3 separate regions of the Homo sapiens genome follow, and all the other regions are linked to region 1. Evidence: fine-mapped QTL for protein levels in blood plasma. A gene starts in region 1. Each other region holds a variant in brackets. All regions are shown on one strand. Distances are between the middles of the regions. Region 1 holds the start of TGFBR3 (transforming growth factor beta receptor 3). Region 2 overlaps TGFBR3 (transforming growth factor beta receptor 3). Region 3 has its middle 120 kb from the start of CDC7.

The links. PIP is the chance, under the fine-mapping model, that this variant and not a neighbour inherited with it causes the effect. The UK Biobank Pharma Proteomics Project read protein levels with antibody pairs (Olink). The fine-mapping took linkage between variants from a reference panel, not from the people measured, so its PIPs are less certain.
Region 2: its variant is fine-mapped to the plasma level of the TGFBR3 protein (UK Biobank, PIP above 0.99). The variant lies in the coding sequence of TGFBR3. If it changes the protein, the assay may bind it differently, which can mimic a change of level.
Region 3: its variant is fine-mapped to the plasma level of the TGFBR3 protein (UK Biobank, PIP 0.99).

The regions. Positions count from the first base shown.
Region 1 is chr1:91,883,041-91,890,452 of GRCh38, forward strand. TGFBR3 (transforming growth factor beta receptor 3) reads right to left here and starts at 3,111. Exons shown (of 17, transcript NM_003243.5): 1 at 2,838-3,111. RefSeq lists enhancers at 1,919-2,682, 2,683-3,445 and silencers at 2,588-2,797, 2,808-2,887, 3,238-3,377.
Region 2 is chr1:91,730,377-91,737,788 of GRCh38, forward strand. TGFBR3 (transforming growth factor beta receptor 3) reads right to left here. Exons shown (of 17, transcript NM_003243.5): 5 at 4,400-4,583. Among named protein-coding and RNA genes, the nearest start is that of TGFBR3, 150 kb to the right of the region's middle. RefSeq lists enhancers at 2,156-2,450, 6,379-7,412. The variant T/C (reference allele first, on the strand shown) is at 4,504.
Region 3 is chr1:91,621,606-91,629,017 of GRCh38, forward strand. No RefSeq gene overlaps it. Among named protein-coding and RNA genes, the nearest start is that of CDC7, 120 kb to the left of the region's middle. The variant T/C (reference allele first, on the strand shown) is at 3,308.

The DNA of each region.
Region 1 (7,412 bases):
ATTATATTCAGTTTTCTACAAAACACAAATGAGGATCATTACAAAAGGATTCACAACAAATTCCTCTGGATTTCCATTTCTCCCAGGTAAGTTGAAATATTATTCAAACCACACAAAATTAGTTTACATACAAACTTCACTTTTTAAAGAGATGGGGGTCTCACTATGTTACCCAGGCTGGTCTCGAACTCCTTGGCCAAGTGATCCTCCTACCTCAGCCTCCCAAAGTGTTGGAATTACAGGTGTGAGCCACTGTGCCTGGCCTACACACCACTTAAGGAAACAAATTGAAAAAAAACTATATGTGTGTTTATCTATCTGTCCAGCCACCATGGAGTTCTTGACATATATTCAACATACAGGCCCTGTCCTCAAGGTCATTCTTAATCAGTTCAAATTAAATCTAGTCCTCCATTATAAACTCCAAAAGCAACTTAGTTATTTTGCTAGATATTTTGCCCTCCCCTTTCAAACTATATGTTTAATACTCTAAAAACGGGTTTATGCGCCTTATAGATATCAACAGTGTGTTATGCTCCCCCTATTGACTAATATTCAAAATAACAATGAACTCCCCACGGGTTGCCTTTGAAGTGCTGGGATTCAAAACTATGTTGGTGATTTTTATATTTAAAAACATGAGCTGAATCAACAGTTGTTAGGCAAAGCTGCCGTGTAACGGTCAGATTCCATCAAAACAGGAAAAATTAAAGTTGACAAATGTCAAACTGAAGGGCCAAAAAAAAAAAACGCTCAAGCCTTGAAACACTAAACAATGCAGAAATAAAGCCAAAAGCAAAGAACAGCAAGAAATAGAGCAACATCCTTTAACTGACACAATGGCATGAAATCAATTTCATGTTAATAGCCCTTAAGGGGGTAAGAATTATTTCCCTGCCTCCTGTGCCAACCCCAAGCTGTTTCCTAAGGAAGCCAAGTAATGGTGATCAACAATGTCTGGAGAATTAATAAAAGAAATTAAGAATAAAGATCCATGTTGGCCAGGCGTGGTGGCTCACACCTGTAATCCCAGCACTTTGGGAGGCCGAGGCAGGTGGATCACGAGGTCAAGAAATCGAGACCATCCTGGCCAACATGGTGAAACGCCGTCTCTACTAAAAATACAAAAGTTAGCTGGGCGTGGTAGCGCGCGCCTGTAGTCCCAGCTACTCTGGAGGCTGAGTCAGGAGAAACTCTTGAACCCGGGAGGTGGAGGTTGCAGTGAGCCGAGATCGCACCACTGCACTGCAGCCTGGGGACAGAGCGAGACTCTGTCACCAAAAAAAAAAAAAAATTTCCATGTTAATTAATACAAGTCAGAGTTCTATTTATAATTATTTGGGGCCAGTTTCAGAGGAACTTTAATTGGGCACCCTCATAAGTATGTAAAATCGCCTAAATTCATCACAGATACCTTATGTGTGTTTCAAGAGATATGCGTTCAGCTCAAATAGAAAGCTGAAAGATGGGAGAAGATGCATGGACTATGCACACAAATCTATGTACACACAAATCGGCCTGCACTTGCCGCTCTCCGCTGAGGAAGGAAGGTAGCTTTGGAGTCAGAACTAACAGAAAGTTATGTATGATCTTGGACAAGTAACTTAACCTCTAGTGTCTTATCTGTAAAATAGGGTTATTAATAGTGCTTTTCCCATAGAGATGCTGTGAGGATTAAGTGCACACAGTATGGGCTTAGAAAACGTTAGCTGTTATTATTATCCAAAAGAAACAACTGAGTTCACACTGAAGTAACTGTTTGCACTCTGCATTCAGGAAGAAGAAACGGTCTTGACGTGTGTTTTTACTACCTGTGGAGACTTCTCCCAAACCGCTCACTTCTTCGGAAGGACATAAAACTCAGAATACGCCTGGTTCCCCAGCACAGCCTGTCACTCCTACTATCCTCTGCCCTCGCCGCTCCTATCCTGCCACCGCAGGGCTAGCGGCAAGCAGCGCTAACCTCCGTGCGGTGCTTACTCGGTGCCAAGCACTGTTGTAGCACCTCACACACATTAAATCATTAGATGCTCACAGCAACTTTACGGGGCAAGTACTACTATCCTCACTTCACAGCTAGGGAAATGGAACGGTTTTCTTCTTCCAGCTTTTCGTGAGGACACCAAATCCACTAAGTTCTACTTTGCCAAGGTAATTCATGCTTGACACGTCGGCTCCTGACACTATGCGATTCTGCAAAGCGGGGCAAATGCCCTAATAAGATCAAGTCTGCAAGCAGATTCTTCTAGCGACAGTCCAAGATTTCCAAGTTTGTCCTAACCAAATGAATACAAGAAGAGAGCCTTCAAAATAAACCGGGGCGGGGGGGGGCCGAGCTGCAGCTTGCGGCTCAGCCCGCAAGGCACCCTGAGGGCGCGGCCAGCGGGGAACGCAAACCGCGTCCGTGCACGAGTCCGGGAGCCACAGCCTGGGCCACGGCAATTGACTGCGAACCCACAACAAACCATTCCCACCGAAGCTGTCACGCGCCCGGAGGGAAGTGGCCGCCGCGCCCCGCAGGGGTCAGAAGGACCCGCGGAGAGGAAGAGTGAGGGCGGGCGTGGAGAATTCCTCCCCAGCACTGCGCATCGCCGGGGGCACTGCCTGCCCCGTGCGGCCGCTGCCCACGCACCGCTGGCCACCGGTGCCTGCTCCCCGGAGGGTAAACACCGCCCCACCAGCGCCTCCCTCCCAAGGCCGGAGGTCCTGGCGGCTGGAGCGACCCTGGCCGGTAAGTAGGCACTGGCAGCCCGCGCCGCGCCGACGGGCACCCGCGCAGCCTGCAGAGCCCACAGCCCGGGCGGGCTGCAGCGCCGCGGGGCTGGGCCGGCACGTACCTCGGAGGCGGTGTGTCCAGCGGAGATCCACCCGCAGCAAGTTGGAGGAAAGCGGCGGCAAGTTTCCCCGCCCAGCGCTCGGCGGCGGCGAGCTCCGGCAGCTGCTGCGCCGCGGCAAAACTACGCCATCCGGACCCGCTGGGGACTCTCACCTCCTGCAGGGAGCTCCGGGAATCGCGCAGGGAAAGTGGCCGGGGCGCGAGAGCCGCCGACTGCCCTCCTTCACTCGCTGGGAAGAGGAAAGTGCCGCTCGGCGTCCCCGAAACCCTCGATTACCCCCATCAGGCCGACCCGGCGCACTCGCCCTCCCTCGCACACACGCGGGCGGGGACGGGCAGGACGCCACAGCAATCAGCGCGCGGGGGGAAGGGCGCTCCTCCGCCGGCCCCACCGGGGGCTCTCGGCCGCCCAGAAACTCCTCCTCCCGCCTCCCGCCTCCCGCCTCCTCTCTCCTCCCCCTTTGCCTCCGCGGCTGATGGATGAGCCCCGAATGCTGCTCGAGCCTGTGCTTCCCTTCGGGACGAGGAGGCCGAGAGAGAAGGGGCTAGGGGCGCGGCCGGGCTCAGCGTGCCCGGGTTGGGGCGGCCCCTGTCCTGGGGGAAGCGCGAGGGAGACGTGGGCACGAGCTGCGGGGACTCGCTCCCTCAAACGAGGTCCTTTGAACTTTCCAGGGCTCCCTGGAAGAGTTGGATTTTCATTTGGTTCCTTGGTCTTTATATAAAAGTTCTGAAACCTCAGATAATCTGATCACAGCCTCTTGCCCTCTCCCCAGCAGAGCTCCCCCATGCACACATTCATTCTGTCCCTGTGCTTTTTCCCAACCTCCGGTCCCGCTTGTTGTCACGCTCTGATGGTGGGCGCCGGCGGAGTCTTGCCTCTTCCCCTCCAGCAGCTGAGACTGCATTACCCAGCCGTTCCCCCTGCTAGCTAAATAAATTAATACAAATAATGGAGCTAGGTCAGCATTACCGGCGTTACCCGGAGGTGGGCGCGATATGAACGACAGTCTCGGCGGGGCAACGTCCTAAGTACCTGTGCCTGTGCGACGTCCTAAGTACCTGTGCCTGTGAAGTACACGCTGCAGAAGTTGAACTGCTGGCACCAGAACACCACTCTGATACTCTTGCTTACACCCAGTTTTTCTTATTAAAAAGTATACTTAAGTAACAGGACATTGTTTTACAAACAGGCAGGTGAAATGACCGTGGACTGACAGGTTTCAAAGACCAGACTTCCAGTCCTGACTACTGTGCGACCTTCCACAAATGGCTAACGGCTAATACCCGTCAAGGCTCAGTTCAAATGAAGGGCTTGGCCTAGAAGGCTTCTTCCAGTTCTAAAGGGCTATGGACCTATGCCTTTTTTTTTTTTTTTTTTTTTTTTTTTGAGATGGAGTCTCGCCCTGTCGCCCAGGCTGGAGTGCAGTGGCACAATCTCAATCTCAGCTCGCTACAACCTCCGCTTCTCAGGCTCAAGCGATTCTCCCACCTCAGCCTCCTGAGTAGCTGGGATTACTGACAAATGCCACCACGCCCAGCTAACTTTTTGTATTTTTTGTAGAGGGGGTTGGCAGGGCGGGGGTCTCACTTAGTTGCCCAGGCTGGTCTCAAACTCCTGAGCTCAAGAGATTCGCCTGCCTTGGCCTCCCAAAGTGCTGGGATTAGAGGCGTTAGCCGCTGCACCTGGCTCAATCCTAGGCTTTTAATATGTTGGAGAGTAGAATGAGGAGGCTTCTTATGACATGTTATTTGGAAAGTTATTGAGAGAACAGGAAATATTTCTCGTCCTCTTCCTCTTGTACCTATAGGCAGAGAATCCACCCAATTGCAGAATTGGAGATTCATTCACAAAGGTCAAATGTCATCAGTCACCTGAATTACTGCAAAAATCTCCTCACTGAACCATTTTTTTCCTTACCAATATTCATTGAGCACTGACTATGGGAGAGCCCTGAGTCAGGCATTGGGAATACAAGTAGGCATAATATTCTGAAGGAATAAACAGTCCAGATGGAGCTAGCCTCTGCTTTTATAAAGTCTAAGTTTAAGGCCTTAAGATTTCTCCTAGACTCAAATTAAACAGTATTTGATATGGTTTGGCTGTGTCCCCACCCAAATCTCATCTCGAATTGTAAGTCCCACAATCCCCATGTGTCCTAGGAGGAACCCAATGGGAGGTAATTGAATCTTGGGGATGAGTTTTTCCTGTGCTGTTCTCATGATAGTGAATAAGTCTCACGAGATCTGATGGCTTTAAAAACAGGAGTCTCCGTGTACCAGCTCTCTCTGCCTGCTGCCATCCACGTGATATGTGACTTGCTCCTCCTTACCTTCTGCCATGATTGTGAGGTCTCCCCAGCCATGTGGAACTGTAAGTCCAATAAACCTTTCCTTTGTAAATTGCCCAGTCTCGGGTATGTCTTTATCAGCAGCATGAAAACAGACTAATACAGTATTTATGCCTTGTTAACAAGTTTTAGTTTCAAGTACAGATGTGAACACTTGAACTAGGTGTGAATATTTAATCCCACATTTAAATGCATCGGCCAGGTGAGGTGGCTCATGCCTATAATCTCAGCAATTTGGGAAGCCGAGGTGGGTGGATCACTTGAGGTCAGGAGTTCTAGACCAGCCTGACCAACATGGTGAAACCCCATCTCAACTAAAATACAAAAATTAGCCAGGCATGGTGGCGGGCACCTGTAATCCCAGCTACTTGGGAGGCTGAGGCAAGAGAATCGTTTGAACCCAGGAGGCAGAGGTTGCAGTGAGCTGAGATGGTGCCATTGCACTCTAGCCTGGACAAGAGCAACACTCTGTCTCAAAAAAATAAAATTAAATTAAATGTATCAATCATGTTAAGGCCTTCTAAATAAAATGGCCTGGTAGATAATTTAGGAGTGTCTTGTCTTTAAAGAGTGATGAAGTGACTGGTCCCCGTAGAGCCAGATTCACAACAGTAACCATCAACATCTGAGCCAGCGTGGGTACTGAATTCTTTTTTGTTTGTTTGTTTTTGTTTTGAGACAGAGTCTCGCTCTGCTGCCGAGGCTGGAGTGCAGTGGCGCAATCTCAGCTCACTGCAACCTCTGCCTCCTGGGCTCAAGCAATTCTCCTGCCTCAGCCTCCTGAGTAGCTGGGATTGACAAGCACGCACCACCATGCCTGGCTAATTTTTGTATTTTTAGTAGAGACGGGGTTTCATACCATGTTGGCCAGGCTGCTCTCGAACTCCTGACCTCAAGTGATCCACCCGCCTTGGCCTCCCAAACTGCTGAGATTACAGGCATGAGCCACTGCGCCTGGCCATGGGTACTAAATTCTATACATATAAACACATTTACTTCTCACAGCCCTCTAAGAATATGTATAAATGAGGCCGATATACATGCCTTTATACAAACTGAGATCTTGTCCACGATTCAATCTCACATCCACCGACCTCAAAACCTGTCCACGATTCAATCTCACATCCACCGACCTCAAAACCTAAGTCCTTAACCACCAGGTTCTTCTACCTGTCATCAGAAGCTTTATAGACTGGCAAAATAAAAGGGCTCTTTTTTTTAATTCTGAGCTATTTAGTTTCAGTAGATGATATGGAAAAACACAAGAAATTACATCAGTATTTACAAAATTAACAATGTCTACAGAGATGTTTTCTCTTTAAATCTTTACAATATGATATTAAAAGCAGAAATCCAGATACCTCAAGCATAGACGAAAGGTTTAAAATAAACTTGAATTTTTGGTTCCTGAGCAAAGCTCTATAAAAAAGGGTTCCCCTACCTCTTTTCTTTCTTTCTTTCTTTTTTGAGACGGAGTTTCCCTCTTGTTGCCCAGACTAGAGTGCAGCAGCGCGATCTCAGCTCACTGCAACCCCCACCCCCACCTCCCAGGTTCAAGTGATTCTCATGCCTCAGCCTCTCAAGTAGCTGGGATTACCAGCACCCACCACCATGCCTGGTTGATATTTGTATTTTCAGTAGAGACAGGGTTTTGCCATAACTCCTGACCTCAAGTGATCCACCCACCTTGGCCTCCCACAGTGTTGGGATTACAGGCGTGAGCTGCCGTGCCCAGTTGCCCAACCTCTTATTAATGGCAATATTAACTGATTTCTAAGGGAATGGATGCTCCCTTTCACTAATTTCTCATGGAGAACTGCATTCAAGCTACAGTATTTGTTACTGTAAGATACCAGCTTTCTTTTGGTCCAAAGTGGTTTCTTGGTCATTTGTTTGGAATTGTTTCAAACAGGATTGTAAGCAGGGGGGTGAAATTGAGGTGCATTACTTGCATTAAAAATGTTTGCCAGCAGAGTTTCAGTGATTTACTGAGGCTGTTTTTCATACAAGGAACCACCCCTCCTGTAGGTGTGGACTCACATGTTGACAGTGACTCAGATTTAGTGGCATGTCTCCAGATTCTGTTGATTAGCAGTTCACAGTCTGCTAATCAGACTTTCTTTAATCAGATAAAGTCTAAAAGACTTTATCATTAGAAAAATCATTTGGTTGTTTCTCTATAATCTTTTTTTTTTTTTTTTTTTTTTTTTTTGAGACACAGTTTCCGT
Region 2 (7,412 bases), 150 kb before region 1:
GCTCGTAGTAGATTCCAATATAAACCAAGGCTAAGAACTTCTCAGCTCCTTCCTCAATCCCCTTTCTATCTCATTCTTTTTCTAGGTGATCTCAATCACTCCCATGGTTTCAACCTGTACCTAGATCATGACTCCTTTTCTGAGCAGTTGACTTATACTGTCATCTGTCTACCAAGCATCTCCTATCTAAAAATCCAATACTTATGTATTTCATGGTCAGCGTATTTAACATTCAATCCATTCTATCCCCAAATGCACTCCTCCTTGGATATTTGTTATTTCAACTATCAGGAGAAGCAACCACCTAATTAATCCTCCGACACCCCATGTAGAATTAATCTTTCCCTCATATGTATTCCTCACAGCACTTTATACTCTGAAGATGAAAGGTAGGAATTTGGGGGAAATAAAGAAGGCAGACTTTCACTCTTTCTCACAATCTGAACACAGACAACTCAAGTTTATATGGCACTTTACAGTTTACAAAGTGCTTTCGCAAACATTATCTCACTGTGCTGAGAGTTGCTCACCACCTCCACCCGGGAAAGTGATGCAAGTACCAGAATCTGAAGACACTCCCACAACGGCACATGCCATTTACACAGCACGGCGGCTGATGGGATTTCCATCCACGGGCTTAAATATTTCAACAGAACTTGAAAGAAACTGCTGGCAGTGTGACAGCTGGGACCAGTGTCAAGGAAGTTCTAGGTGTAGCATGCTTTTTTCAGAAGGGATAATTAATCAGAGGCCTGGCACTACTATAAAACAGACTTCTGCCTTTTCCATTTTGAGGACAGGATGCCAGGGTTCAAGTCCACATGGAAGTCTCACTTTGGAGTAAGGAATCCAACCAGGGGGTCCCAAGACTGGGTTGATACTGTCCCTCCCCCTCCCCACTTGTGCAACCTCCCTTGTGCTGAGGTCCGCAGCACACACTGGGGCATCATGGCTCTGGCCACCACAGCACCCCCAGCACCACCCCAGAACAAAGGGGACCAAAGCCTCTGTTTGTCGGCTCGTTGCGAGAGAGCATTGGGTTTGCACTCTGCAGTCTCCTCTAATTCCCCTCCCCCTCAGAGAGAAAAGCTCAAGGCTCCACTGACTCAGGCTGCTAGAGCAGCCTCCCTCCACATCTGCTGAGGGTTTTGCCAGATGAGCAAATGAGGTATGCACACCGTGCAGCTGCAGCCCTGCGGATGCCTCCCCCACATCACAGGATGGAAAATGATATTGGAACGGCAAGGTTGAAATTTAATTAAGAAAGAGCGTCTATGGGCCAGGGACAGGACAGTCTGGAACTCAAGAGACTAGGGCCCTCCTGGGATTGTGGCCGGCATATCCAGTTCATAGGTGTGCCTGGCTTGTATCTGGCACATAGTGGGCATATGGTATAGGTTTCCTGAATTAACAAACAATGATGTGAGATTTGAGACAAATAACAAAATATTCACTCATGTGAAGCCACTAGGAAAGGTCTAATTGTTCAAAAGTTGATGTTATTAAGGGCTCTAGTCCCAGAAGCCATTGTCACTAAGTTGAATAAGCTGACCACTTTTGTTGTGTGTGGTTTCTCCCCCGCTCCCCAATGACTTTCCGAATGCCTGGCATCAAAACTTATACCGAGTGCCAAGTAGAAAGGAAACCACAAAGGGGAATTCCCGGGTAGAAACCTGGCAAGTTTGGGGGCAGGGGGAGTCACATGCTTATTTGTATTTTAGGGAAAGATTGACAAATGACTTTGAGACACAGAAGGATATACTCTGAGAGCAGGAATGAACCTGGGGGGTAATGCAAACACCTCATTTTCCTGCTGTGGAAACTGAGGCTCTGGTGGTAAGTCAATGTTGCTTGAAGCCTCGCAGCAAGACCAGCTGGGATAAGAGCAAAACTCTTAAATTCTTTCATTCTGGGTATATAGATGAGAGCAGTTCCCAAACGTCAGCAAGCATCAGATCTCCTAAAGGGCTGATTGAAACACTGACTGCTGGGTCCCACCCCCAGAGTTCCTGATTCAGTTGGTCTGGGTTGGGCCTGAGAACTGGCATTTCCATCAAGTCCCCAAGTGATGCGGATGCTGCTGGGGCAAAAACCACACTCTGAGAACTGCTCGGGTTAGAGCAACCAGGCCTCATGGCCTGCGATCGCTGGGTACAAGAAAGGTAGAGCCAGGTCGGATTCTGGGAAGTGGGGGATGAAGCTTGCTCAGTGCAGTCTGAGCCGTGGTGATAAACATATCACTTTATGGTCCACTGACCTCACCAAGGAACCTCCTTTCCCTACTGCTCCTCTCTCCACGGCATGGCCCGGTGACTCATACTCAACTGGTGGCTGGAGTCAAGTTTCAGGGGTTCCGAAGGTGTTACCAAGGAGTTAACAGTTTTTACTGCACCAGACACAAGGTCCTTTAAGTTGGCTTCCCCTACCCAGTGTGCACAGGCTGAACCAGTTAAGTGACAACCCGTGGCTCTCAGGGTAAGTGACTACTGTGCTTAGAAAGAAGCTCATGCACTGCCGAGAGAACACAGTCCAACATTCTAAATGTTATTATAACAAATTTTCTTATTCTAACAAATTCCAAGGGGTAATCAACATTCTTTCATGCTACTAGAATTCTGCTTCAGAAACGCGGCCCGCTGGCCAGGGCTTAGAGTCTTTATTAAAAGAAATTTTTCATTTTGTCTCAATGGGATTTGACCTCTGTTATTAGCTACCTATCATGAGAGTACAGAAACAAACTTAGACTTTTTGAGCCCAGCCCTCCTCTAAGTCCCCTTCTCTCTGCCTCAACTAAACAAGGATGTTCATCCAGGTGGACCACTTCCCTTTTTGAGTTATGCTTATTTGGCTAGGACTTAAAGTACAGCTCAGGCAACAAGCGTTAAACTCAAGAGTCAGGAAGCCTGGGTTTGTGTTCTGGCTTTGTCACTTGTTAGTAACTTGGATGTGAGCAGGTTCACTTAGCCCTCCACTAAGCCCTCTGTAAAACGGTGGAAATGACATCTTCCTCCTGGGGTTACTGTGGGGTTAAGTGGGATGCACGTGAAGGCCCCTGAAATGGCTTCTGCACGTAGCATCCTCTCCGACGTCCACGTCCACCTTTCCTGCCTCTGTCTCTCACACACTTTAAAGCAGCCCAGATCCAAATAAGAGTTGGGATCAAGTGTTCACTAACCCACCCTTCCCTGTCTTGTCTATGAGGAGGTGACAGCTGCTGTAGAATTTAACAGAAAGCAGCTGGATGCTGAAGACCTTAAACGCAGTGTTCACACAATCAGCCAGCTATAACAAGGACCCATTCACAAGAGTTATTTCCTAGTAACTTATGGGGGTTCCAAATATACTCAACTGAAAATAATGATTTTTAAAAAAAGGTCTGGCCAGGTGCGGTGGCTCATGCCTGTAATCCCAGCACTTTGAGAGAACAAGGGAGGAGGATCTCTTAACCAGCAGTTCAAAACCAGCCTGGGCAACACAGCAAGACCTGTGTCTACAAAAAATTGTAAAAATTAGCCAGGTATGATGGCATATGCCTGTAGTCCCAGCTTCTTGGGAGACTGAAGCAGGAGAATCACTTGAGCCCTGCAGGTTGAGGCTGCAGTGAGCACTGATCGCACCACTGCACTCCAGCCTGGGCAACAGAGCAAGACCCTGTTGAAGGAAGGAAGGGAGGGAGAGAGGGAGGGAGGGAGGGAGGGAGGAAAAGAATGAAAGAATGAAAGAATGAGAAAGAAAGAGAAGGTTTTTTGTTTTTGTTTTTGTTTTAAAAAAGGCTTTCAAAACTGGGTTTCTGGATATTTCTATCCCTTTGCAATGCAAGGAAATTTAAATAGGCAATCTCTTATCAAGACCCTACACTTCTTTTCTCCAATAATTTGTCCTTGTAATAGTCATTTGTACTAAAAATATATTTAAATACTTTTCCTTTGCTATTGTCCAAAATGTAACCTATGTCTCAGCACCACAAACTGACACAGGCTTCAAACGTTTGCAGAACACAGGTAAGAGGAAGCCACCTGCTGACCCATTCATTCTGCCAGCTCTTCCACTCCATCAGTCATCACCTCCTTCCCACACCCTCAGCTTCTCACCTCCACTTACTTTTTTTGACTTCTGTGCATGGGTGTCTTCTAAATCCCACACAACAACCTTCTCCTCTCTCCCCCTGCTCCTCCCTGTGTTTCACTTGGCCATAACCAGGCCTGCTTCCCCAGGAGGAAAAAAGAAGGGAGGGAATATGGGGGGCGGTGGAGAGGCCTGGGGCCAAATGACCCCTCAGGTCCCTTCCAGGTCCAACATTCTGTAATTCTGTGATTCCTTGCCCTAACCACCTGGTTTCAGAAAAGAAAACAATTGCCTGTCATAAATCAGTCATTAACTGAAGCCACATAAAATTTACCTTCCCCCACTTTAATATAAATGTTTCTTGCTATCTTGAGTTCGGTGAATGAAGTAACTGCTCCATACTCTTTTCGGGCCCAATTTAACAGATGTTCATTTCCA[T/C]GGGGGAAGTTCCTTTCTTCTGTTTCTGCTGTCAAGGAGAAGTTTGCTGATGAAAACTGGACCACAGAACCCTCAGACACCTAGAGGAAAGAGAATTGCGTATTTAACATGGTGCAGTCACCGGAGCTGAATCATAATTAGAGAAAGTACTTCTCAAATCGAAGTGCTTGTAAATCGAACCTCTTCCCTTTGTTATACAAGCAGATCAGCGTTTTTAAGCAGCGGATTCAAGGAATAATCCCAAGCCTAGTCCTCCCAGACAAAGGCAAAACTACCAATGCAGGATGTCCCTCTGAACTCTGAAAGAACCTTGTGAGGACGGACTGCATTGCACATTGAGTAATCGTAAGAATTATCACTGCTATTTCCAAGAAATCTAAATCGAAGACCAATCTTACAATGAATGTATTTCAAGTCAAGTGGGAAGCCTTGATGAATGTTCTCGTGGGCTTATAAAAAGCTTCAGGATCAAGACAAGTGATCCCAAAGTCCTGCTAGCAACTGATCACGACTTTCAGGTCTTCCACAGTTGCAGCATCTGCCAACAGAGTCATCACAATAGGGAAACAGCGAGAGTCCTCTTGGTTTATGTTCACCTCAGCACTGAGATAAAAATGGCCAAAGGTTGCCAGCCTTTCTATCACATTGCTCTATTTCATAAGAGTGAGATGAATGTTTGTAACAGTTTATTGTGTAAGACCCCCAAATTCCCATAGATAATGAAGTCAAGAGGCTGTTAAACTGATCTAATAAAACTTTCAGGATGACGTATGCAAGTACCTCATTCTTGCTGAATGTATTTAGACCACTGCTGACCTAGCATATCATGGTATATGTGTAATTAACACATCCAAAGGAGGAAAATCATCATCTTGTTGCTGTGCTATAATCAAATTTAGTTGCTGGTGAAAATATGTATGCCATTTTTGTTGGCTAGCATTTATAAAATAACTGATTTTTTCAATGTCAGAGTGAAACCTCAAAATGTGGGCAAGAAGGCTCACAAATTCTCAGGTCATAGAACTATAAATGTCTTGTATTAAATTTCACATGAACCATTTATTCATAACGAAAAGCATGCAGTTTCTGAAGTAAGACTAAGAAGCAAGTCGAGGGCAGGGATTTTATTAGTGGTTCTATCACAGCAGCATTTTTAACACACACAAAATTATATTTTCCCAGCTACTGTGCTAGGCATTAATATTTTCTATACAATTATATAAACGTATCTTCTAAAAACGCTGGCAAAAAAAAGTACTTCAATTAATTGATTCCATGACCTACTAATGTTGCAAGCTGAAAACTAGAATCACCTGAAAAGTTTCTAGATATCCTGATGCCCGGGCCACACAGATGGTACAGAGCTACATGTTCCACTCTGGTTTTGTTTATAACTGGCATCAGGACATTCAGAAATGATCGTGACTACACTTGACAGCACTGATACGTAGTAAGTGTGCAGTCAGTGGTAGCTGTGTAGAACTACACAGGGCTCTGTGGAAGCCCTGAATTAATCACTAATAAACTCGGTGTAAACCAAAGCTACTCACAACAGCTACCACTGACTGCACACTTACTACGTATCAGTGCTGTCAAGTGTAGTCACGATCATTTCTGAATGTCCTGATGCCAGTTATAAACAAAACCAGAGGGGAACATGTAGCTCTAACCTTGTTTTGACGTCGCCTGAATAAGAAAAAAATCCTAGGTCATTTTCCTGCCAAAAAATAACCATGCCCACCTAAGTGTAACTTCTCTGAGGCTTAGCTACTCATCAACACTGAACTTCCAACAATGTTTATCTAATTTTTTGACTTTTGCACTGTAGTAAAATCTTCCTTTCACTTGTACTAAAAAGGCATTTTTATCAAGGCTGTCACCAAAACCCACAACAGTCCAGAGGCCTTTGTCCCACTGCCAGCACAGTTCTGAATGTTTAGACGAGAAACCCTGGATGTTCTGCTTCTTGTTTCTCATTCATGTTGTGGCCATAAACTACAGCAACCCTATATACATTATACACAGAGTACGTTTTTCAGAGCGGAAAGCGGGATGTCACACTGGTGCATTCCAGAGGCAAGAAAGCAAACAGCACAAATACAGAAGATATCAACGGCAACTCCGAATTGTGTCCTGAAGTAATTAAAGAGCGATGCCGTGATGAAGCTGGTGATGGGGCTGATTCGTGGAGGAGGAACAACTCCCTCTGCTCCCTCCAGGCATTGTTGTCCTCACGGGCCAGCAGCAATAAGCTTCATACACTCAGGGCTGAGGAATTTGGAACTGGAGTTAACTGCCACTCCTCAGGCACATTCCAATAAGAAGAAAGCAAAGCTGCAGTGAGGTGTCCCTGACTGCAGGTCAGTGGAAATTTTCAGCTTCAGCAAGGAGTGAGCTAGCACTCCCCTCCTGACTGCCAGCTCTCCTGACCCTGACAAGGCTACAGCTGAGTTTTAGAAGGTGTTGTTTTAGAAGGTATTGTTCAGATGTTATTTCCATCTGATTTGCGGAACTGTGAGGCAGGCTACGGTGACCTCTACAGCAGAAAAGCGGAAACCTCAGAGAGTCTAATGGCCTACCCAAGGCCAGAGAGTCATGCACCAGGCCCAGACCAGAACTTAAGACTTCTGACTCCTGGTCACAGCTGGCCTCTGCTTGCACCCTTCCAGAAAGAAGACCTCACTAGCTCCCAAGACAGCAGATTTCTGTTCTGTTAGATTCATTTTTTATACACTAGTCTGAGCCATGCCTACTAGAACAAAGAATTCCTTCGTCTTTCTTCCATGAGACAAGACTTCAGGTGTTTAAAGGTGTCATCTGACCTCAATCACATGTTTGCTTTTTCAGGGCAACACCCCTAGCTTCTTCAGTTCTGCCCCAGATACCCTGGTTGTCAGAGCGTCAACAGG
Region 3 (7,412 bases), 260 kb before region 1:
TGTAGGGGAGACTTGGGGGAAAATTTTTCTCACTCTTAACTAGAGACACCTAGCAGGAGACAGGCTCATCTTCTCTTGCACTGCCATGTCCAGGAACTGCTGCAATCATCTCACAGCCATGAAGGGAGCTGGCTTGAGGACCCCCCCAATATATCTAGGATGGCAAAGCCAGAAGATGAAAAGAACCTGGGTCATTGCTGAAATTGTTGATTAGCTAAATTAACCAAACCTGGATCTGCAGTGTGACACTAGATGTATTTATTATTTAATACAAATGAGTCCAAATTTTCTGTCATTTACAGCCAAAAGCATCCTAAGTGACACAGTGCTGCAGTGTTAACTTAGCTATTCCTCCACTCGCTAGAGTCTAAGCAGTAGAGTCTACTGTTTCCACCTCTCTTTCAGTGCCAAGAAACATTTCTTGAGCCATATCCTTTAACCCACAGTTCATATGGAATCTCTTGCCTGATTTGATGGTCACTTATAACAATAACTGGTGCTGTTCTTGTCCAGATTTTTCTAACAATGGCTAAGCTTATTACATAGTGAAGATCCTGTGCCAAGAAAATTACTGAACAACTGTTCTTTTCTCTCCCTCTCCACAAAAGGAGTATTGCGTAGAATAACATAAATGAACTTTTTCATTGCTAAAGAACTTGAGAAATGGCTTTTGTGCATCTTTAAGTCTCATGTTAAATGACCTAACTCACTGAAATTTTTTTTAATGATGAAAGATAATAAATCACTTAGGGACTGACAATACATATCATTAAGTGCCTCTTCCTAAATTATTTGACCTATGAATATAAATGGCACTTAAAAATCAGCATATATTATCTCAACTATGTAAACGCATAGGAAAAAAACTAAAAAAAAAATTCACTAAATTGTTTCTGGTGATTTTGCACGTTGGGGCATGGTGATTATTATTTTCTTCTTTAAACTTACAAACACTGTATTCACTTTTGTCTGTCTTTTCTTTGTTTTATGAGTGCATGACCTTCCTTGACCCAGGAAGTACATGGCACCACCTCATTTTCCTAAAAGAGCAAAGTGGACCATTCCCCCTCCTCTCAGCTCTTCAGGGCAAGTATATTTTCTTTCCCAATTCAGATTTCCCTGAATTAGATTTACAACTTCTATTTCTAGCAAGATCTCCCACGCCAAGGCTGCAGAGTTGGCACCCCTCCCTCTGGCACCCTTGATGCGTTCACATGATCCAGACTTCTTCTACAGAGACTGTCCTACAATGGGCACCAAGTTCTGCCTATTTCGCCTCTGAGCTAATTCCCTCCAATAACTAGTTTCTTGATACTCCCCTTTGGAATCATTTTCCTGGCTTCTTTCCTGGATTACTTCTTTCATCCTGCCTAGAAACCCTTTATTCTTTGTGGTCAATTGAAGGGCAAAGGGGACATCCTCTAAGCCTTTCATCCTTATCCAAATGGGAGATTACCTTGCATTCATAGCATTCAAAATGTAAGACCCCTCAGGCGAGAAGATTGGCCTAGCACACAGGGCGTGTAGTTCAACTTGACAGTTCAGTGACCATGTGTACTTCTTAGATCAATGTGGTCCCAGGAAACTACCATGGCAAACTGCCTATTAGTTCTGCCTGTTCACTGTCAAGATCTCTCAGGAAAAGTGCTCTTAACTCTCTCCTGGTACATTTGTACCTGGAGGGCAGATTGAATTGACTTTGATCACTTGACATTCTGGCTCCTTACAAGTCTCTCTCTCCTTATCCTCCACAAGACACTGATCATCATTTGATTCCAAGATTGGTAGGACCCCTCTACCTGGGCAGATCCCAACTGTAACAGATACAAATAATCCTTTGTTTTGAAGATGGCTATTTTGATGTAGAGGAACAGAGGCTTGACTCAAATTAACTAAAGAAAAAGGGAATCAATTTTTAAAGATAAACATGAGGCAAAGGGGGATCAGAAATGGCATAAGAATTCAAGGACAGGTACCATAGTATGGCTGGGCACCAGGGGAAATCTGCAACTAGCAGAGACCACTCTCTCTAGGCATCTACCTATCTCTGGCAATGACCGCTCCATTCTCCTCCCTAACTGACCAGCTTTCTCTGCTTACCCATTCTTTCAAATTCCTCTAACTTTGGAATGCCTGTGGCTTGTGAGGGCCACTCAGGCCCCAGCCTAATGGCAACTCTTGATATAGAGATTTGGCTTTTGCCTTCAGTGTTCATTGGTCTAGTTTTAGAAAAGCTGCAATTTAAAAATAAATGTTTCAATTATAGAATTTAACACACAACACATACACACTACAGTAGAATACTAAAGCCCCACATACCCATCACCCAACTTCCAATTACTAATACTTTTCTTCTAAACTTCTGTCAAACTATGCATCTGACAAAGGTCTAATATCCAGCATCTATAAAAAGCCTGTGCAAATTTACAAGAAAAAAAAAACACTAAAAAGTTGGCAAAGGACATGAACAGAAGAAGACATACATAAGGCCAAAAAGCATATGAAGAAAAGCTCAATATCACTGACCATTAGAGAAATGCAAATCAAAACCGCAATGAGATACCATCTCACACCAATCAGAATGGCTATTAGTAAAAAGTCAAAAAATAACAGATGCTGGCAAGGTTGTGGAGAAAAGGGAAGACTTATATACACTGTTAGGCGTGTAAATTAGTCCAACTATTGTGGAAAGCAGTGTGGTATTCCTCATACAGCTAAAAACAGAACTGCCATTCAACCCAGCAATCCCATTACTGGATATATACCCAAAGGAATATAAGTCATTCTATCATAAAGACACATGCATGTGTGCATGTTCGTTGCAGCACTATTCACAATGGCCAAGATGTGGAATCAACCTAAATGCCCACCAATGTGGGCTGGATAAAGAAAATGTGGTATATATACATCATGGAATATCATGCAGCCATAAAAAAGAAAAAGATCATATCGTTTGCAGGAACACGGACAGAGCTGGAGGCCATTATCCTTAGCAAACTAATGCAGGAAAAGAAAACCAAGTACTGTGTGTTTTCACTTATAAGTGGGAGCTAAATGATGAGAACACATGGACAACTCGAACAACACACACTGGGGCCTACCTAAGAATGAAGGGTGGGAGGAGGGAGAGGAGCAGGAAAAAATAACTATTGAGTACTAGGTTTAGTACCTGGGTGACTAAATAATCTGTGCAACAAACAAATGCCCATGACACAAGTTTACCCATATAACAAACCTGCACATGTACCCCTGAATCTAAAATAAAAGGTTTTTTTAAATAAAAATAAACTTCTGTTTACCTCTCTCT[T/C]TTTTTTTTTTTATTTTAAAGCAAATCCCAGAAATCGTTTCATTTCACTTGTAAATACTTCTATTCAATTTCCGTATTTAAAGTCATTAGACCCTTTCAATCAGAAAGGAATCTGATTAGCCTGCCTCACCATTGTAAGCCCAGGCATACAAATGATCACTGGGCAGTCCATGGACTGGATGTCTTTGGATCAGGTGATCAACCCAGTTCAATCAAGAGTGGCTAGGCGGAACTGTGTTCATTATCACCAAATAACTGTGATGACACTGCTTCTCCACAAAGCCAACAGTTTTCAGTATAAGGAGGAATAGGCCTGGTACACACTGCACAACCTTGTTAAATCATCCCCAGATCACTGAGTTATCCACCAGGGCTGGGGCTAAGGTGAGGCAAAGGGGGGACTTGCTTCAGGCACAAAATTTAGGGGGAGCCAAAACGTTCAGTAATCAAGATAAATAACATTTTAATGCAATCCTTTAATGAATCAAAATTACTTTTAGAAAATCCACAGTGAAGAAAATATCAAAATGTTAAATAAGGACAGAAGTTGTCTACAAAAGTAATAAACTTGCTGCAGTGAATGACTGTCTTGTGTATTCAGGTACTTTACATACGTTAGAGCATTAACTCCTCATAACCCCATAAGAAAGGTTATGATTAGCTAGTCTTAGGAAAATTCTTGACATAAAATTGCATTTCAATCTATTCTTGGATAAAAAAGCATTTATTGGTGAAGTTAAATGTAAGGTATCAGAAACTCCATAGAGACTCCTACAAAAAAGTAACCATATTCTCCTTTTTTAAAACATCTTTTTCTCTTTTCCCAGTATGCCCAGTTCAACCATCTAACTTGCTTAGAAAAACAAGACTTTTCCAAGAGAAACAACATTTAAATCAAATAAAATCCTTACAACAACAGTGTTTTTAAACGTGATTGTTTCAAGATTCTGATATGCCCGACAGGCTGAGTTTTGAAACTTCGAGTTGGGACGCTTTATCACTCAGGGGACCGCTTCTTCAGGGGAATTTTATAGCTGCACTTTGAAAGTTGCAGGGAGAGGGTTTTTTGCCTTTGAGCTGTGATATCTCTTCAACAAAAAGGGGGTTTTCATTATTATTATTTACAGTGAAACCTAGTGACAGGCAGCTACTATTAATCATTCACTTATTCACCATTGGGGGTCCTCATGGTTTACAGCACTATGCTTGGGACACAACTACAAAATAAGATAACCAAAGTCCCTGCTTTCGTGGGACTCACATTTGGTTTTGTATTGTTTTGTTTTGTTTTTTACTTTTTTTTCCCTTAAACTCAGTGGGAAGAATGACCTTTGATTTTTAGTATTATGATAGGGCTTAGCATGGCATGTTGCATTTAGGACCTAATTTTCTTATATTAAAAAAATGTTAATTTGTGCAATTATAAGAAAAATGGGAAATACATTCAACTTCAACTAAAGTCTGAACGCACTAGAATATCCCCAAGTCAGTAACAATCCTTAGACCTATGTTACCATTCTCCTAAACATTCTAGCCCATTAATGGCTTATTAATCCCCTAGCTAAACATTTAATAACTAACAAATTTGCTTGTGCCACATGGTTTGTGTGAATTTAAAAATCCTATGATTTTTCCCTTTCTTCTAAACTGCTTTTCCGAAAACCATTCAAGAAACCAATAAGGAGTTAGGTGAACTCTGCCCTTTATGATCTTATCATAGAAATGAATAAGGGTGGCTAATTTAATGACAACTTTAACCTCCTTTTCAAATTATTTCTGCCCATAAAAATGTTTTTATATGGTACCAGATAACTCCCAGCTGCTCTATGTGCTGAGACATGCCTTTTCTGGTAATACCATAGGACTCCAATGGTACAATCACAATACACAGAGATACTCTCCCTGACTTTCCAGATCTTCGACAGTTCTTAGGAGCTGGGCCTAGCACTGCTGGAACTACCTTTCATTAAAATACTACTGGTTCTATAGTTTATATTACTCCCTTTAAAATCTTACTAATTTCCAGACACTTGTTTTCCTGAATAAAAATGTCTCAAGGCTCCATAGTCACATACTACCTTTGCATTAAAATGCAATTGCAGCTAAAATCAGGAATGAAAGCAGGACATCACTACTGATCTTAGAAAAACAAAAGGGATTATAATGTAATATTATAAACAACTGTATATCAACAAAATAGACAACTTAGATGAAATGGACAAATTTCCAGAAAGACACATACTACAGAAACGGACTCAGGAAGAAGTAGAAAACCTGAATAGGCCTGTCAGGCCTCTGAGCCCAAGCTAAGCCATCATATCCCCTGTGACCTGCACGTATATATCCAGATGGCCTGAAGCAACTGAAGATCCACAGAAGAAGTGAAAATAGCCTTAACCGATGACATTCCACCATTGTGATTTGTTTCTGCCCCACCCTAACTGATCAATATACTTTGCAATCTCCCCTGTCCTTAAGAAGGTTCTTTGTAATCTCCCCCACGCTTAAGAAGGTTCTTTGGAATTCTCCTCACCCTTGAGAATGTACTTTGTGAGATCCACCCCCTGCCCCCAAAACATTGCTCCTAACTCCACCGCCTATCCCAAAACCTGTAAGAACTGATGATAATCCCACCACCCTTTGCTGACTCTCTTTTCGGACTCAGCCTGCCTGCACCCAGGTGAAATAAACAGCCATGTTGCTCACACAAAGCCTGTTTGGGGGTCTCTTCACAGGAACACGTAAGACAAGACCGATAACAAGTAAAGAGACTAAATTCGTAATTTTAAAACTTCTCCTAAAAAAATGTCCAGGTTGTCAGGCTGGGCGCCGTGGCTCACGCCTGTAATCCCAGCAGTTTGGGAGGCCGAGGCGGGCAGATCACAAGGTCAGGAGATCGAGACCATCCTGGCTAACACGGTGAAACCCCGTCTCTACTAAAAATACAAAAAATTAGCCGGACGAGGTGGCGGGTGCCTGTATTCTCAGCTACTCGGGAGGCTGAGGCAGGAGAATGGCGTGAACCCAGGAGGCGGAGCTTGCAGTGAACCGAGATCGCACCACCGCGCTCCAGCCTGGGCAACAGAGCCAGACTCCGTCTCAAAAAAGAAAAAAAAAAGGTTCCAGGTCCTGATGCCTTTAAACTGATGAATTCTACCAACCATTTAAAGAATAATTAAAACCAATCTTTCACAAACTTTTTTAGAAAATAGGAGAGAAGCGGCCAGGTGCGGTGGGTCACGCCTGTAATCCCAGCACTTTGGGAGGCCTAGGTGGGCGGATCACGAGGTCAGGAGATGGAGATCATCCTGGCTAACACGGTGAAACCCCGTCTCTACTAAAAAATACAAAAAAAATTAGCTGGGCATGGTGGCGGGTGCCTGTTGTCCCAGCTACTCGGGAGGCTGAGGCAGAAGAATGGCGTGAACCTGGGAAGCGGAGCTTGCAGTGAACCGAGATCGCACCACTGCACTCCAGCCTGGGCGACAGAGCGAGACTCCATCTCAAAAAAAAAAAAAAAAAAAAAAAAAAGAAAGACAATAAGAGAGAATACTCCCAAATATGTTATGTAAAGGCAGCATTACCCTGATACCACACCAAACAAAGACATCACGAGAAAACTACAGACCAATATCTCTTATGAATATAGACACAAAAATCCTCAGTAAAATACTAACAAATCAAATCCAGCAATTTGTAAAGAAGATTATATACCATGACCAAGTGGGATTTATCCTAGAAATGCAAGGTTGGTCTAACATCAGAGAATCAATTTATGTAAGATACCATATCAACAAAATAAAAACAAAAATTAGTCCTGGTGTGGTGGTTCATGCCTGTAATCTCAGCACTTTGGGAGGCCAAGACAGGAGGATTGCATGAGCCCAGAAGGTAGAGGCTGCAGTGAGTTATGATACCCCATCTCTAAAACAACAACCAAAAAAAAAATTTAAAACTAATTAGATGATCATCCCAACAGATGCAGAAAAAGCGTTTGACAAGATCCAACACCCATTCATGATAAAAATATTTAACAGTTTGGGAATAGAAGGTAACTTCCTCAACCTGCTAAAGACTATCCACAAAAGACTGACAGCTAACATCA